Linked DNA regions of Homo sapiens. The protein of the gene in region 1 interacts with the protein of each later gene in a biochemical or structural test. Each region holds a gene or a part of one and is shown in the gene's direction. Other genes may lie near its edges.

Region 1 (7,025 bases):
CAAGAGAACGGCATGAACCTGGGAGGTGGAGCTTGCAGCGAGCTGAGATCTTGCCACTGCACTCCAGCCTGGGCGACAGTGCGAGACTCTGTCTCAAAAATAAATAAATAAATAAATAATAAATAAAATGTTTGGAATGTTGGCTTCATCCCTGGGATGCAAGGCTGGTTCAACATACGCAAATCAAGAAACATAATTCATCACATAAACAGAACTAAAGACAAAAACCACATGATTATCTCAATAGATACAGAAAAGGCCTTCAATAAAATTCAACGTTGCTTCATGTTAAAAACTCTCAATAAACTAGGTATTGATGGAAAATATCTCAAAATAATAACCATTTATGACAAACCCACAGCCATTATCATACTGAATGGGCAAAAGCTGGAAGCATTCCCCTTGAAAACTGGCACAAGACAGGGATGCCGTCTCACCACTCCTATTTAACATAGTATTGGAAGTTCTGGCCAAGAAAATCAGGCAAGAGAAACAAATAAGGGGTATTCAAATAGGAAAAGAGGAAGTAAAACTGTGTTTGCAGATGACATGATACTATATCTAGAAAACCCCATTATCTCCACCCAAAAGTTCCTTAAGCTGATAAGCAACTTCAGCAAAGTCTCAGGATACAAAATCAATGTGCAGAAATCACAAGCATTCTATACACCAACAATACACAAGCAGAGAGCCAAATCATGAATGAACTCCCATTCACAGTTGCTAGAAAGAGAATAAAATACCTAGGAATACAGCTAATAAGATGTGAAGGATCTCTTCAAGGAGAACTACAAACCACTGCTCAAGGAAATAAGAGAGGACACAAATGAAAAAACATTCCATTCTCGTGGATAGGAAGAATCAATATCATGAAAATGGCCATACTACCCAAAGTAATTTATAGGTTCATTGCTATTCCCATTAAACTACTATTGACATTCTTCACAGAATTAGAAAAAAACTACTTTAAAATTCAAATGGAACCAAAAAAGAGCCCGTATAACCAAGACAACAATAAGCAAAAAGAACAAAGCTGGAAGCATCACACTACCCAACTTCAAAGTATACTGCAAGGCTACAGTAGCCAAAATGGCATGGTACTGGTACAAAAACAGACACATAGACCAATGGAACAGAATAGAGACCAGAGAAAGAAGACCACACATCTACAGCCATCTGATCATCGACAAACCTGACAAAAACAAGCAATGGGGAAAAGATTCCCTATTTAATAAATGGTGCTGGGAAAACTGGCTAGCCATATGCAGAAAATTGAAACTGACCCCTTCCTTACACCTTATACAAAAATTAACTCAAGATTAAAGACTTAATGTAAAACCTAAAACTATAAAAACCCTAGAAGAAAATCTATTTAATACCATTCAAGACATAGGCACAAGCAAAGGTTTCATGACAAAAACATCAAAAGCAATTGCAACAAAAGCAAAAATTACAAATGGGATCTAATTAAACTAAAGAGCTCCTGCACAGCAAAAGAAACTATCATTAGAGTGAACAGGCAACCTACAGAATGGGAGAACATTTTTGCAATCTATCCATCTGACAAAGGTCTAATATCCAGAACCTACAAGGAACTTAAAACAAATTTACAAGGAAAAAAACAACCCCATCAAAAAGTGGACAAAGGACATGAACAGACACTTCTCAAAAGAAGACATTTATGTGGCCAACAAACATATAAAAAAAAGCTCAACCTTACTGATCATTAGAGAAATGCAAAGGAGAACCACAATGAGATACCATCTCATGCCGGTCAGAATGGTGATTATTAAAAAGTCAAAAAACAACAGATGCTGGCGAGGCTGTGGAGAAGTAGGAACACTTTTACATTGTTGGTGGGAATGTAAATTAGTTCAACCGTTGTGGAAGTGTGTGTGGCTATTCCTCAAAGATCTAGAACTAGAAATACTATTTGTCCCAGCAATCCCATTACTGGGTATATACCCAAAGGAATATAAACCATTTTATTATAAAGATACATGCACATTTTTGTTCATTGCAGCACTCTTCACAATAGCAAAGACACAATAGCAAATGCCCATCAAAGATAGACTGGATAAAGAAAATGTGGTACATATACACCATGGAATACTGTGCAGTGCAGCCATTACAGCTTTTGGTGATACAGTGAATCAGATTTTTCATTAATTCTTTTAATTGGTTATTACTGAACGTGAAAAAGTAATGTTTGTATTGAAATCTTGAGTCTGGCCATGTTTCTATTTTAAATTCATAAAGAATTCTAACAAGAGGAATTCCAAGAATGTCATAAATGGATGTTTCTCCATGGATGAAGGAACTGTTTTATTCACTTGCTGATAATTCAGCCTAATCCAGTTTGACATCATATAGATAAGTAGTTGAATTATGGATTTAAAATACATATCATTTTCTAACTCCAAAGGTAATACTTATTTAAATGGTTTTGAAAATATAGAAAGGCACAATTTCTTTTTAAATCTGTTATTCTCCACCACCACTCAATCTGTCTATCATCTATCTCTCCATTCATTCTTCCATTTGTTTATATCTGTTAATCTTTGTATGTGTTCATGTATAGCTTTTACATGATTGGAATCATAATGCATATTCCATTTTGAAGTCTGCTTTTTTTTACACAAAAATATGTTGTGAATATTTTCCTATATTATGAAATATCATTAGCTGAGCTTTTAGAATTGACTGCATGTTTTGGTACCATTTAGATATAGTTTAAGATACTTAGAAGTTATGTGGCTTTGCCACTATGGATGAATCTTATTTACTCAATATTAATTACTTACAAATAACCTCACCTAAACACTACTCAGCCATAAAAAGGAATGAATTAATGACATTCACAGCAACCTGGAGACTATTACTCTAAAGGAAGTAACTGAGGAATGGAAAACCAAACATTGTATGTTCTCACTCATAAGTGGGAGATAAGCTATGAGGATGCAAAGGCATAAGAAGGATACAATGGACTTTGGGGACTTAGGGGAAAGGGTGGGAGGGGGGTGAAGGATAAAAGAATACAAATTGGGTTCAGTGTATACTGCTCAGGTGATGGGTGCACCAGAATCTCACAAGTAACCACTTAATTACTTACGCATGTAACCAGATACCACCTGTTCCCCAAACACCTATGGAAATAATTTTGTTTTTTTTTTTAAAAAAGGAATGAGATCATGTCCTTTGCAGGGACATGGATGAAGCTGGAAGCCATTATCCTCAGCAAACTAACAGAGGAGCAGGAAACCAAACACCACATGTTCTCACTTGTAAGCGGAAGCTGAACAATGAGAACACACGGACACAGGGATGAGATCAACACACACTGGGGCCTGATGCAGGGGCCGTAGCGGGGAGAGCATCAGGATAACTAGCTAATGCATGTGGGGCTTAATACCTAGGTGATAGGTTGATAGGTGCAGCAAACCACCATGGGACACGTTTACCTATGTAACAAACCCGCACATCCTGCACTTGTATCCAGAACTTAAAATATTTTAAAAATCTTTAGAGAATACAAAAAAAAAAAAAAAGATTCTTCAATGCATACACAATAAAATTGCAGTTCAGTCAAACATTGGAAGTCTTTCTCTGACTGTCTAGTTGGTATCTTCATTTTCAGCTTCTTCAAGATCCCACTCCAAACACTGTTAGCTCAGCCAAATTGAACAGCTCATATCTCCTACCTCTGGATCTTTGGTTCTGGTGATTGTATATTTCTGGACCATCTGGAACCCCAGCATATCACCCTACCCCACATCTCCACATCCCCAAAATATAACCATACTTCAAGGGCAGTTCAAATACCATCTCCTTCTATCCTCCATGAAGTCAGTTATCTCTTCCATTGGAATTATCGCCCCCTCTCCTGAACAGTACTATTTCGTGTGAATCTCCTCCAAGCCTTCTTTTCATTTTATATCTCATGCTGTAATTCTTGGAAAGTATGCTGTAGCTCAAGTGCAGAATTCTCATCAGTTTTATCTTTATATCTCTCCTAAACACTTTACCTGATGAAGAGCCTGGCATACACATAAATATATATTGAATGAATCAGTGATGGATTGAAAAGAGAAATGATGGATCTCCTAAATTTTAACTTTTATAAAATATTTTGATACATTCATGACCTTACTTTAGCAAGCAATGAACGTGATGTAAACTATTGTTGATATAGTTTTTATATTGGAAGTGTAAGTAGTTTGTGGCATGGGATTGTGACATATCCTAGGTTTCCTCATCTTCTTTTTATTGAAATGTAATTCACAAGCCATAAAATTTGCCCCTTTAAAGTAAATGATGCAGTGGATTTTAGTATATTTACAGAGTTGTGCAATCATCACCACTATCTAATTCCAGAACATTTCCATCTACCTAGAAACTCCATACCAGTGAGCTGCCACTCTAATCCTCCTCTTCCCCCAGCCTCTAGAAACAATAATCCATTTTCTGTCTCTATGATTTGCCTGTTCTAGATATTTTATAAAAATAAACATGTGGCCTTTCGTGTCTGACTTCCTTCACTTAGCATGTTTCAAGGTTCATCTATGCTATAGAGTGTACCAGTGCTTCATTACATTTTATGGCTGAATAATACCCTATTGTGTGGATATACCGCATTTAGTTTATTCATCAGTTGATCGAAATTTAGACTGTTTCCACTTTTTTGCTATTATGGATGATGCTGCTATGAATATTCGTATATGAATTTTTATATGGATATATGTTTTCAGTTCTTCTGGGCATATACCTTAGAAGTGAGAGTGCTCATCATATAGTAACTCTATGTTTAGCCTTTTGAGGAACTGCCAAACTGCTTTTCAAAGTAGTAGCATCATTTTATATTCCCACCAGCAGTGTATGAGGTTTTTTTTATTTTTTTGTTTTTGAGACGGAGTCTCACTCTGTCGCCCAGGGTGGAGTGCAGTGGCGTTATCTTGATTCACTGTAACCTCTGCCTTCTGGGTTCAAGCCATTCTCCTGCCTCAGCCTCCCTAGTAGTTGGGAGTAGCTGGGTTTACAGGAGCTCGCCACCATGCCCAACTAATTTTTGTATTGTTTTTTGAGACGGAGTCTCGCTCTGTGGCCCAGGCTGGAGTGCAGTGGTGCAATCTCAGCTCACTGCAAGCTCCGCCTCCTGGGTTCATGCCATTCTCCTGCCTCAGCCTCCCAAGTATCTGGGACTACAGCCGCCCTCCACCACGCCCGGCTAATTTTTTGTATTTTTAGTAGAGACAGGGTTTCACCGTGTTAGCCAGGATGGTCTCTATCTCCTGACCTCGTGATCCGCCTGCCTTGGCCTCCCAAAGTGCTGGGATTACAGGCGTGAGCCACCGCGCCCAGCCAATTTTTGTATTTTTAGTAAAGACAGGGTTTCACCATGTTGGCCAGGCTGGTCTCGAACTCCTGGCCTCAGGTGATCTGACTGCCTTGGCTTCCCAAAGTGCTGGCATTACAGACATTAGCTACTGTGCCTGGCCTCAAGTCCTTTCTCATTTTAAAACTGCGTTATTTTATTTTATTTTTCTGAGATGGAATCTCACTCTGTCGCCCAGGTTGGAGTGCAGTGGTGCAATCTCGGCTCACTGCAACCTCCACCTCCTGAGTTCAAGCGACTCTCCTGCCTCGGCCTCCCTAGTAACTGGGATTACAGGCACCCACCATCACGCCTGGCTAATTTTTGTATTTTTAGTAGAGACAGGGTTTCGCCATGTTGGCCAGGCTGGTCTTGAACTCCTGAACTCAGGTGATCTGCCTGCCTCGGCCTCCCAAAATGCTAGGATTACAGGCGTGAGCCACCACACCCGGTGGGTTGTCTTTTTATTGTTGAGTTGTAAGCATTCTTTTTAATATTCTGGATACTAGTTTCTTATCAGGTACAATCTTTGTGAATATATTCTCCCATTCCATGGATTGTCTTCTCACTTTCTGGATACTATACAGTACAAGTTTTAAATTTTGATGAAGTTCACTTGATTTCTGTTTTTTATGTTATTGCTTATGCTTTTGGTGTCATACCTAAAAAACCATTGTCTAAATCAATTGCCTATGAGGTGTTACCCCTATGTTTTCTTCTAAAGTTTTATGATTTTAGCTCTTTGACCCATTTTGAGTTATTTTTGTGTATGCAGTGCGAGATAAGCATCCAGCCTCATTCTTTTGCACATAAATGTTCACTTGTCTTAGCATTACTTATTGAAAATACTATTTTTTCCCTATAGAATTATTTTATACTTATCACAAATCAACTAACTATAAGGGTTTATTTCTGGACTCAATTCTGTTGCTCTATCTTATGGTAGTACCACACTGTCTTGATTATTGTAACTTCGTAGTAAGTTTTGGAATCCAGAAATGTAGTCCTCTAACTTTGTTGTTGTTGTTGTTCTTCTTTTTTCTTTTGTAGAGATGAGGCCTTGCTATGTTGCCCAGGCTGGTCTCAAACTCCTGGCCTCAAACAATCCTCCCACCTCCACCTCCCAAAGTGCTGAGGGGTGAGCCACTGCAACTGGCCTGTTCTTTTTCAAAATTGTTAGGGCTGTATTGGGTTTACCTTTCCCTAAATTTTCATATAACTGTTAGGATTCACTTGCAAATTTATGTAAAAAGGGCCTCTGGAATTTTGATAGTGATTACACTGAATGAGAGGAGTTTGGCAGGACTGGTTTCCCAAGACCACAAGACCCTGTAAGACCCTGCTGATAAGACAGGATGTGGTAGAAAGGCCAACCCAAACCAGCCAAAACCATGATGGTGACAGAAGAGACCTCTGGTTACCTTTGCTGCCCATTCTATGGTAATTATAATACATTAGCACGCTAAAAGAAACTTCTACAGCACCATGATAGTTTACAACTGCCATAGCAACTTTCAGAAGTTACCCTGTATGGTCTAAAAGGTCCAGACCTCCCCACTTCTTTCCTGGAAAACTCATGAATAAGCCACCTCTTGTTTAGCGTATAGTCAAGAAGCAACCATAAATATAGCCAGTCAGCAGCCCATCAGGGCTA
Region 2 (7,872 bases), on another chromosome or scaffold:
TATAAATCACCACATACTCATTACTGTTTTGAGACCTAGCCATATGACTACATACAGATCACTGGTTTTCCATCAGAGGTTTTGTCCCCCAGGGACATTTGGTCATGCTTGGAGACATTTTTGTTTGTCACAACTGGGGGATAGGAGTGCTACTGGAATCTAGTGGTAGAGGCCAGGGATGCTGGTAAACATCCTACAGTGCACAGGGCCACCACACACCAAAGAATTATCCAGCCTAAAATGTCAACAGTGCTATCATTGAAAAACCCTGACATAGGATTTATTTATTTATTTATTTATTTTTTTGAGACGGAGCCTCACCCTGTCGCCCAGGCTGGAGGGCAGTGGCGCGATCTCGGCTCACTGGAAGCTCCGCCTCCCAGGTTCCCGCCATTCTCCTGCCTCAGCCTCCCGAGTAGCTGGGACTACAGGCGCCGGCCACCATGCCTGGCTAATTTTTTGTATTTTTAGTGGAGACAGGGTTTCACCGGGTTAGCCAGGATGGTCTTGATCTCCTGACCTCGTGATCCGCCCGCCTCAGCCTCCCAAAGTGCTGGGATTACAGGCGGGAGCCACCGCACCCAGCCAATATTAATACTGTTACATGCATCTCTGAGTGCACATGTGCAAGGTTTTCTCTAGAGAGGCAGAATCATACAGGGTGTAAGAAGGCTCTAGAGGCTACCTGGGTTCAAGTCCCCATTCCACTATTTACTTACTGAATGACCTTTGGGGCAAATTGCTTAATCTCTCTTGATCTCCGTTGACTTGTCCTCAAAATGGGAATAATAATACTTCTCTATATAAATGAGTTAATACGCAAAATGCTTGGGACTGTGCCTGGCACATGGTAAGCATTCAAGAAATGTTAGCTTTTATTTACTGGTAGCAGTATTTTCATCATCATCATTATCATTACAGAACCTTGAAATGAAAGTACACCGTTTAAATTCTACTAAATATTTTTAAATTATTGTAATTTATACTCTCACCAGTAGGGTATAGGAGTACCTATTTCTCCATGTCCTTGGCTATATTTGATATTCCAGACTTAAACTTAAGATATAAACTGATATCTTCTTTTATTTTAATTGGCATTTTCTTTTTTCTTTTTCTTTCTTTCTTTCTTTTTTTTTTTTTTTTAAGGAAACGTCTTGCTCTGTTACCCAAGCTGGAGTGCAGTAGGGCGGCTAAAGTGCAGTGGCATGATCACGGCTCACTGCAGCCTCGATCTCGCAGGTTCATGCAATCCTCCTGCATCAGCCTTCCAAGAAGCTGGGACTATAGGTGTGTGCCACCATGCCCAGCTAACTTTTGTATTTTTTGTAGAGACAGGGTTTCACCATGTTGTCCAGGCTGCTCTTGAACTCCTATGCTCAAGAAATCTGCCTGCCTTGGCCTCACAAAGTGCTGGAATTACAGGCATGAGCCAATGAGTTGAGCGTGCATTTTCAAGATTACTGTTTTCAAGTATTTATTGGTTAATTGGTTTTATTGCTCTGCAAATGTCCATTTCATTCTCTGTCCATTTTTTGATTTACTATTTAATGTTGTAAAACATAATGTAAAAAGTACTAAAAAAGAAAAAAACTTAATGTATTTATACAATTAAAAATTCACAAAATGTAATATGTCATACAAAGAAAAGCCTCTCTTCCACCCCTGTTCCCTGGCTAGTCAGTCCCTCTCCTTAGAGACAACCATTGTTAGTTATTAAATTCTTATCCTTCCAGAAAGAACTTATTTGGATATTCAAGAAAATAAGTATTTTTTTTCTACCCAAATGGTAGCATAGTACATGCATTTTTCTGCATTATTTGTTTTTTCCTTTCTTCACATAACAACATATCTTGGCCATATTTTCCATATGTAAATAAGGAACTCCCTGATTCTTTTTTATTTCTATTCTGTTATAAAGCTGGGCTATAATTTATTTAAACATTTCCATACTGATGTACATTTAGATTGTTTTCTAATATTTTGCTAATGCAAACATTACCACAAAGTCCAAAATAAATTTATATGTGTGAGTATATCTGTAGACTAAATTCCCAGAGGTGGAATTTCTGGGATAAAGGGAATGAGCATTTGTAGTTTTGAAACATATCACATTATTTTCCTCCATAGACATTCTACCAATTCACATAGGCCCGGAAATGTGAATCCTGAGGCAGGGGAAGCTTCTGTAGCTGGAATCGTGATGCAGGGAGGCTTATGTAACATTGTGGGGCTGTCTAGTCTGACAACTGAGCTGCCTCTAGCCTTCACTGGCCTCTGATAAGGTGTCTCATCCCATTAGTCTTGGCAGGTCCCCTCCAGATCTGTGCACTCGCTGCTGCATGGCTCTGTGTCTGCTTTCTTGTGTGTGACAGCTGTCTCATGTGCATGAGGCTCTGCATCATTTCCTGTTCTATGGCTAATTTTTATAAACTCTATGCCTCAGAATTGGCTTGGAAGTCCTTTGGAACTAACACAATACCAACTATCTCAAGACCCTAGCCCTTGCAAATTGGAGGCATTTGGTTTCAGACTACTGAGCCTACTAAGAGTTTAAGATATCCATTCAAGGGCTGGGCACAGTGGCTCACGCCTGTAATCCCAGCACTTTGGGAGGCTGAGGCAGGTGGGTCATCTGAGGTCAGGAGTTCAAGACCAGCCTGGCCAACGTGGTGAAACCCCGTCTCTATTAAAAATACAAAAAATTAGCTGGATGTGGTGGCAGGTGCCTGTAATCCCAGCTACTTGGGAGGCTGAGGCAGGAGAATCACTTGAACCGGGGATTCAGAGGTTGTAGTGAACCGAGATCACGCCATTGCACTCCAGTCTGGGCAATAATAGTGAAACTCTGTCTCAAAAAAAAAAAAAAGAAAGAAGAAAGAAAAAAAATATATGTATATATATATCTCCATTCAGTCCAGTGGATGGATGACCCAGGATAACAATAATAATTCTGAGAGAGTAAAGCACCTTTGAAACACTGTAGATTCTCATTTTTTATGTCTAAATTTCCTTCCTCATGAAGCCATCAGTACCTGTTTGGTGACAGTTCTTTGAAACTCTCCAGTGGTGTTCATATGAGTATTTTCATTCTCTCTGCTGGGTTGCCCAGCTTCATTGAAATACCAATGTTCTTTTAAAATATTTGTTTATCATTTTTAAAGATTACTATTTGTTTTCATTAATGCTGAAACAAGAAAGAATAAAGAAGACTTAATGTGGAATAGGAAACCTGGAATTAAGTCTGAGATCTGTCATTTATTAGCTGGATGAGCTGGAACAATTAGTAGTGTCTCTAAACCAGGGGTTATCAATGTGTGAGCCTCCATCAGGAGCATCGACTTCTCCAGAGAATTTGCTTAAGATGTCAATCATCAGGCTCCACCAAGGACCTGTTGAAAGAGAAAGTCTCTACTGGAGTTCAGCAAATCTGAATTTTAACAAGTTTTCCAAGTGATTCTGAAGAATACTGAGTTCCTTTTTTGAGAAAGGATAAAGATAATTTCTTACAGGTGAGACTTAAATGAGGTAATATAAGCAAAATAAATCTATAAATCAGAGTCATAATGTCAAATGCCTTCAAGGGCCAAGGAGACGTGAGGTAGCAGAGCGGTGGGGAACATAGCCACCCTCTCTAAAGGCATCTACATTATCATTATTTTCTAAATCATCATGCCAGTCAAACAAAACCTGTCAAAAGTTAAATTCTGCTTCTAGGGGCCAGCAGTTTAGGAGTGTAAGTAAAACAATTTACAGATGTTAGACTGTTTTAATTTAACCCTAAAACAAACAAAAAGAAAGGTCTGGAGGTATAACATTTCTGAAAGTCTTTGGTTTACAGCAGTTGCTATAAGGGGAGCCACATAATTTATAGTCCAAACTGGACATTTCTGAAAGTGAAAGGAGGTGCTATTAATAATTACACCAGGACAAAGTGAAACCCAGGATGGTTCCAGGCAAAGCAGAGTGTATGATCACTCTGGCTATTATTATAATAATCATCCACAAGCCCTGTTTGACCTAAGATTAAGATCAGACAAAAATTAATGGTGTACTTCTTGCTGGGGACAGACGGCTGATAATGGAGAGTGAGGAGGTGAGGGTGGAAGCTATACCAAGAGAAGGGGTAGGGAGGAAGCACCCTTTTCCTTAAGACAAGAGGCAAGGAGGGAAGGTTAGGACATGAATGTACAGAAGGGAATGTATGTAACACTGGTTGATATATTCCTAGTCATAACAAAAGCCATAGAAGGCAAGTCAGGGATCAGAGAAGCACCAAGAAGGAAGAAGAAGAACATATAGACAGAATTGGCAAAGCAAAGAATGGGCACGGAGACACCAGCATACTGGAGACATACAGAGAAAAAATCAACAGAGGACAGACTACTACAGGTGTTGTGGGGAGACAGAAGATCACCAGGGGCAAGAGCAAAGTGCAAAAACAAAGAACAACTCTTTAGAAAGGAAGTTCCTTGCCTATCCTACTGAGCTAGGGAGTGGTTGGTTGACCCTGTGACTGGAAATTCCCCAAGGTAGGTGATGATAACCTCCACATTTTCACAAAATTCTGTGAGGAGCCAAAGCACCTGAGGTAGAGAATTGCCCTTCCCCTACTTTCCAGATGCTCTACCAAGGCTTGAACTTTGCATACAAGATGCCCAAAGCATTGCAGTGAACTGGCTGTGACCTTTCAGTAGGCATCACCACCCACCCCTCCACTCCCTACTCAGAGCTGATTGGGAAATCCCCCATAAGTGGTGTTTGGTGCCCCGGTCATTCTGATCTTAGTCAACCACCATACAAACATACCTTTAGTCCAAAGTTCAGGACAACTTATTTCACTTTATAAGCAGCCTATTACACATTCAAAGTATCCATTTGTTCTCAAGAGGTAGCAAGGTAGGACTGCCCATCTGTTTTCCTCTCTTTATAATATTTTCTAGATCCTAAATTTTACGCTTTTCTATCATTTCTTTATTTTTTTCTCCCTCTTCTTTTCCTCTCTCTCTGCTCTTCTAACTAATTGGCAGAATCTCTGACCTCCACTTTCTCTGACTCCCTTCTCCCTTCCTAGAAACAGTATCCACAGTGGACTCCGGGGCTCCTACAGACTTGGCACAGCTTCCTACAGTCTTGAAACAGCCCTGTTGTTCTGTCATGGCCAGTGGGCAGTTTGTGAACAAACTGCAAGAGGAAGTGATCTGCCCCATCTGCCTGGACATTCTGCAGAAACCTGTCACCATCGACTGTGGGCACAATTTCTGCCTCAAATGCATCACTCAGATTGGGGAAACATCATGTGGATTTTTCAAATGTCCCCTCTGCAAAACTTCCGTAAGGAAGAACGCAATCAGGTTCAACTCGCTGTTGCGGAATCTGGTGGAGAAAATCCAAGCTCTACAAGCCTCTGAGGTGCAGTCCAAAAGGAAAGAGGCTACATGCCCGAGGCACCAGGAGATGTTCCACTATTTCTGCGAGGATGATGGGAAGTTCCTCTGTTTTGTGTGTCGTGAATCCAAGGACCACAAATCCCATAATGTCAGCTTGATCGAAGAAGCTGCCCAGAATTATCAGGTAGGCATTTGAGGTTTCTTCCCTGTTCCCCCATCAGCCCAGGAGTTCAGTGAGGCCCTGGAAACTGCTACCTTCCCACTGAGGGTTTGCACCCCATTGCCCCCACCCCTTGGGCTTGAGTGGGCAGCTCGCAGTCAGGCACAGTGGGTTCAAAGAGCTGAGTCTGGGGAACTGCTGACTCTCTAAATCAAGGTGCAATGGAGAATGGAAAGGATGTGAAAATTTGACTCAGAAGGTTTGGGCTCAAGCCCAGTCTTGTGAGTTTACTGTACAACCTGCAAGGAATCACTTTACCTCTCTGAGCCTCAGGTACCTCACCTTTCAAATGGCAAAAACAAAACAACTCTCTTAAAGTTGTTGGTAGGACAGATGAAGGGAAGTTTGTAGTTCTTTGATAATTCCAAAGCACCATCCATAGTCCTAGTTAGTCATAAATAACTATGTTCTGGTCATTTAGGTCACTTAGGCTCCAGATTTCTCCCTTCTCAGCAACCCCTTTCCCCGCCAGCTTGAGAAAGGCGAGTCCTTAATAATTACACAAGGACTCACCTGGAGAGTGTCACCAGCTCTCCTAAGAGACCAGGAGGATTTTATGAGGCCAGAAATCTCCAGGCACAGCCTGTCCAAACGGCCCTCTTTCCGCAGGGGCAGATTCAAGAGCAGATCCAAGTCTTGCAGCAAAAGGAGAAGGAGACAGTACAAGTGAAGGCACAAGGTGTACACAGGGTCGATGTCTTCACGGTAAGAAAAACTCCATCCCACGATCTCTGGAAGCAGAAACATCTCTGCCAAAGCTCCTGGAATCCCCTATTACACTGACCCCTCAGAAAAAGATCCAGTGAGCCATGTCCTCTCCTCGGCGCCTCAGCACCTGACCGGCCAGGCGGCATCACCTCCCGCGTCGGCCTCGCTATTACAGCGGGCTGACTGCTCAGTCTCCACCGGCAGACAAGGTGGGGCACGGAAAACCCGCGCTGGTCTTAGAATCGCAAGTACAGGTTTTTAAGGCCGAGCTGCGCCCTCAACGGATTCCCCAATTAGAAAATGAAGACATTGGCCGGGCGCGGTGGCTCACGCCAGTAATCACAGCACTCTGGGAGGCTGAGGATCGCTTGAGCCCAGGAGTTTGAGACCAGCCTGGGCAACATAGCGAGACTCTCCTCTTAATTAAAAAAAAAAAGAAAGAAAACTAGCCGGGCGTGGTAGCACACGCCTGTAGTCCCAGCTACTAGAGAGGCTGGGAGGTGAAAGTATTGTTTGAGCCTGGGAGGATGAGGCTGCAGTGAGCCGTGATCGTGCACTGCACTCCAGCCTGAGTGACAGAGTGAGAGACTGTCTCAAAAAAAAAAAAAAAAAAAGACAGAAGGAAAATGAAGACATTGTGACCCCACTTACCTATTTTCCTGTGTGCGTGAAAGGAATAAAATCTATATGAAAGATTATAAACTGAAAAGCCTTCTGGAATTGTATTAGACAGTTCCTTGAAGGCAAGTGGTAAACCATAAATTAATAATTTCGCTTAAAGCTGAGCACGTAGTAGGTGCTTTTAGAAGTTTGTTCTCCTCTCCTTTCCTTTCTTCCAGGTCTGCCCTGGCACATTGCTCTGGTTGGGAATTCCACACAAACTTAATAAAATTAATGGCTGAATAAAGTGGGCTAGAAGGACCTTCGAGGCCATCCTCTCACCCTCTGCCTGTCCCTGTTTCTTAGGACCAGGTAGAACATGAGAAGCAAAGGATCCTCACAGAATTTGAACTCCTGCATCAAGTCCTAGAGGAGGAGAAGAATTTCCTGCTATCACGGATTTACTGGCTGGGTCATGAGGGAACGGAAGCGGGGAAACACTATGTTGCCTCCACTGAGCCACAGTTGAACGATCTCAAGAAGCTCGTTGATTCCCTGAAGACCAAGCAGAACATGCCACCCAGGCAGCTGCTGGAGGTGAGTCCCTTGGGGGCAGAATTGCAGAGAGGTAGCAGCCCATCCCTAGTCTCAGGTCAGAGCATGGACCACTGGCAGAATACCTGAGATTGCCCCAACCATCCTACCTCTAGCCCAGTGCTGTCCAATAGCAATATGTGAGCCGCATGTATTAGAATGAAAATGTGAGCCACATATGTAATTCATAAATATAATTCTGGCCACATGTGTGATTTAGAAATGTAGTTTCAGCCACATATGGAATTACAAATTTTTCTAGTTAGTCACATTAAAATGATAAAAGTGAAATTAATTTTAATAAAATATTTTAACTCAATATATCTGAAATATTATCCTTTCAGCCTGTAATGAATATTTTAA

The links.
Region 2: the proteins of CFLAR (region 1) and TRIM31 form a complex in vitro, tested with the Homo sapiens proteins (one study listed by BioGRID).

The regions. Positions count from the first base shown.
Region 1 is NC_000002.12:201,168,147-201,175,171, forward strand, and holds part of CFLAR (CASP8 and FADD-like apoptosis regulator), read left to right. Parts: 3' UTR 1-7,025. UniProt on the Homo sapiens protein: Apoptosis regulator protein which may function as a crucial link between cell survival and cell death pathways in mammalian cells. Acts as an inhibitor of TNFRSF6 mediated apoptosis.
Region 2 is NC_000006.12:30,110,088-30,117,959, reverse strand, and holds the start of TRIM31 (E3 ubiquitin-protein ligase TRIM31), read left to right. Parts: upstream 1-4,869; 5' UTR 4,870-4,896; intron 4,897-5,071; 5' UTR 5,072-5,154; coding exon 5,155-5,571; intron 5,572-6,120; exon of another isoform or gene 6,121-6,216; coding exon 6,217-6,312; intron 6,313-7,281; coding exon 7,282-7,512; intron 7,513-7,872.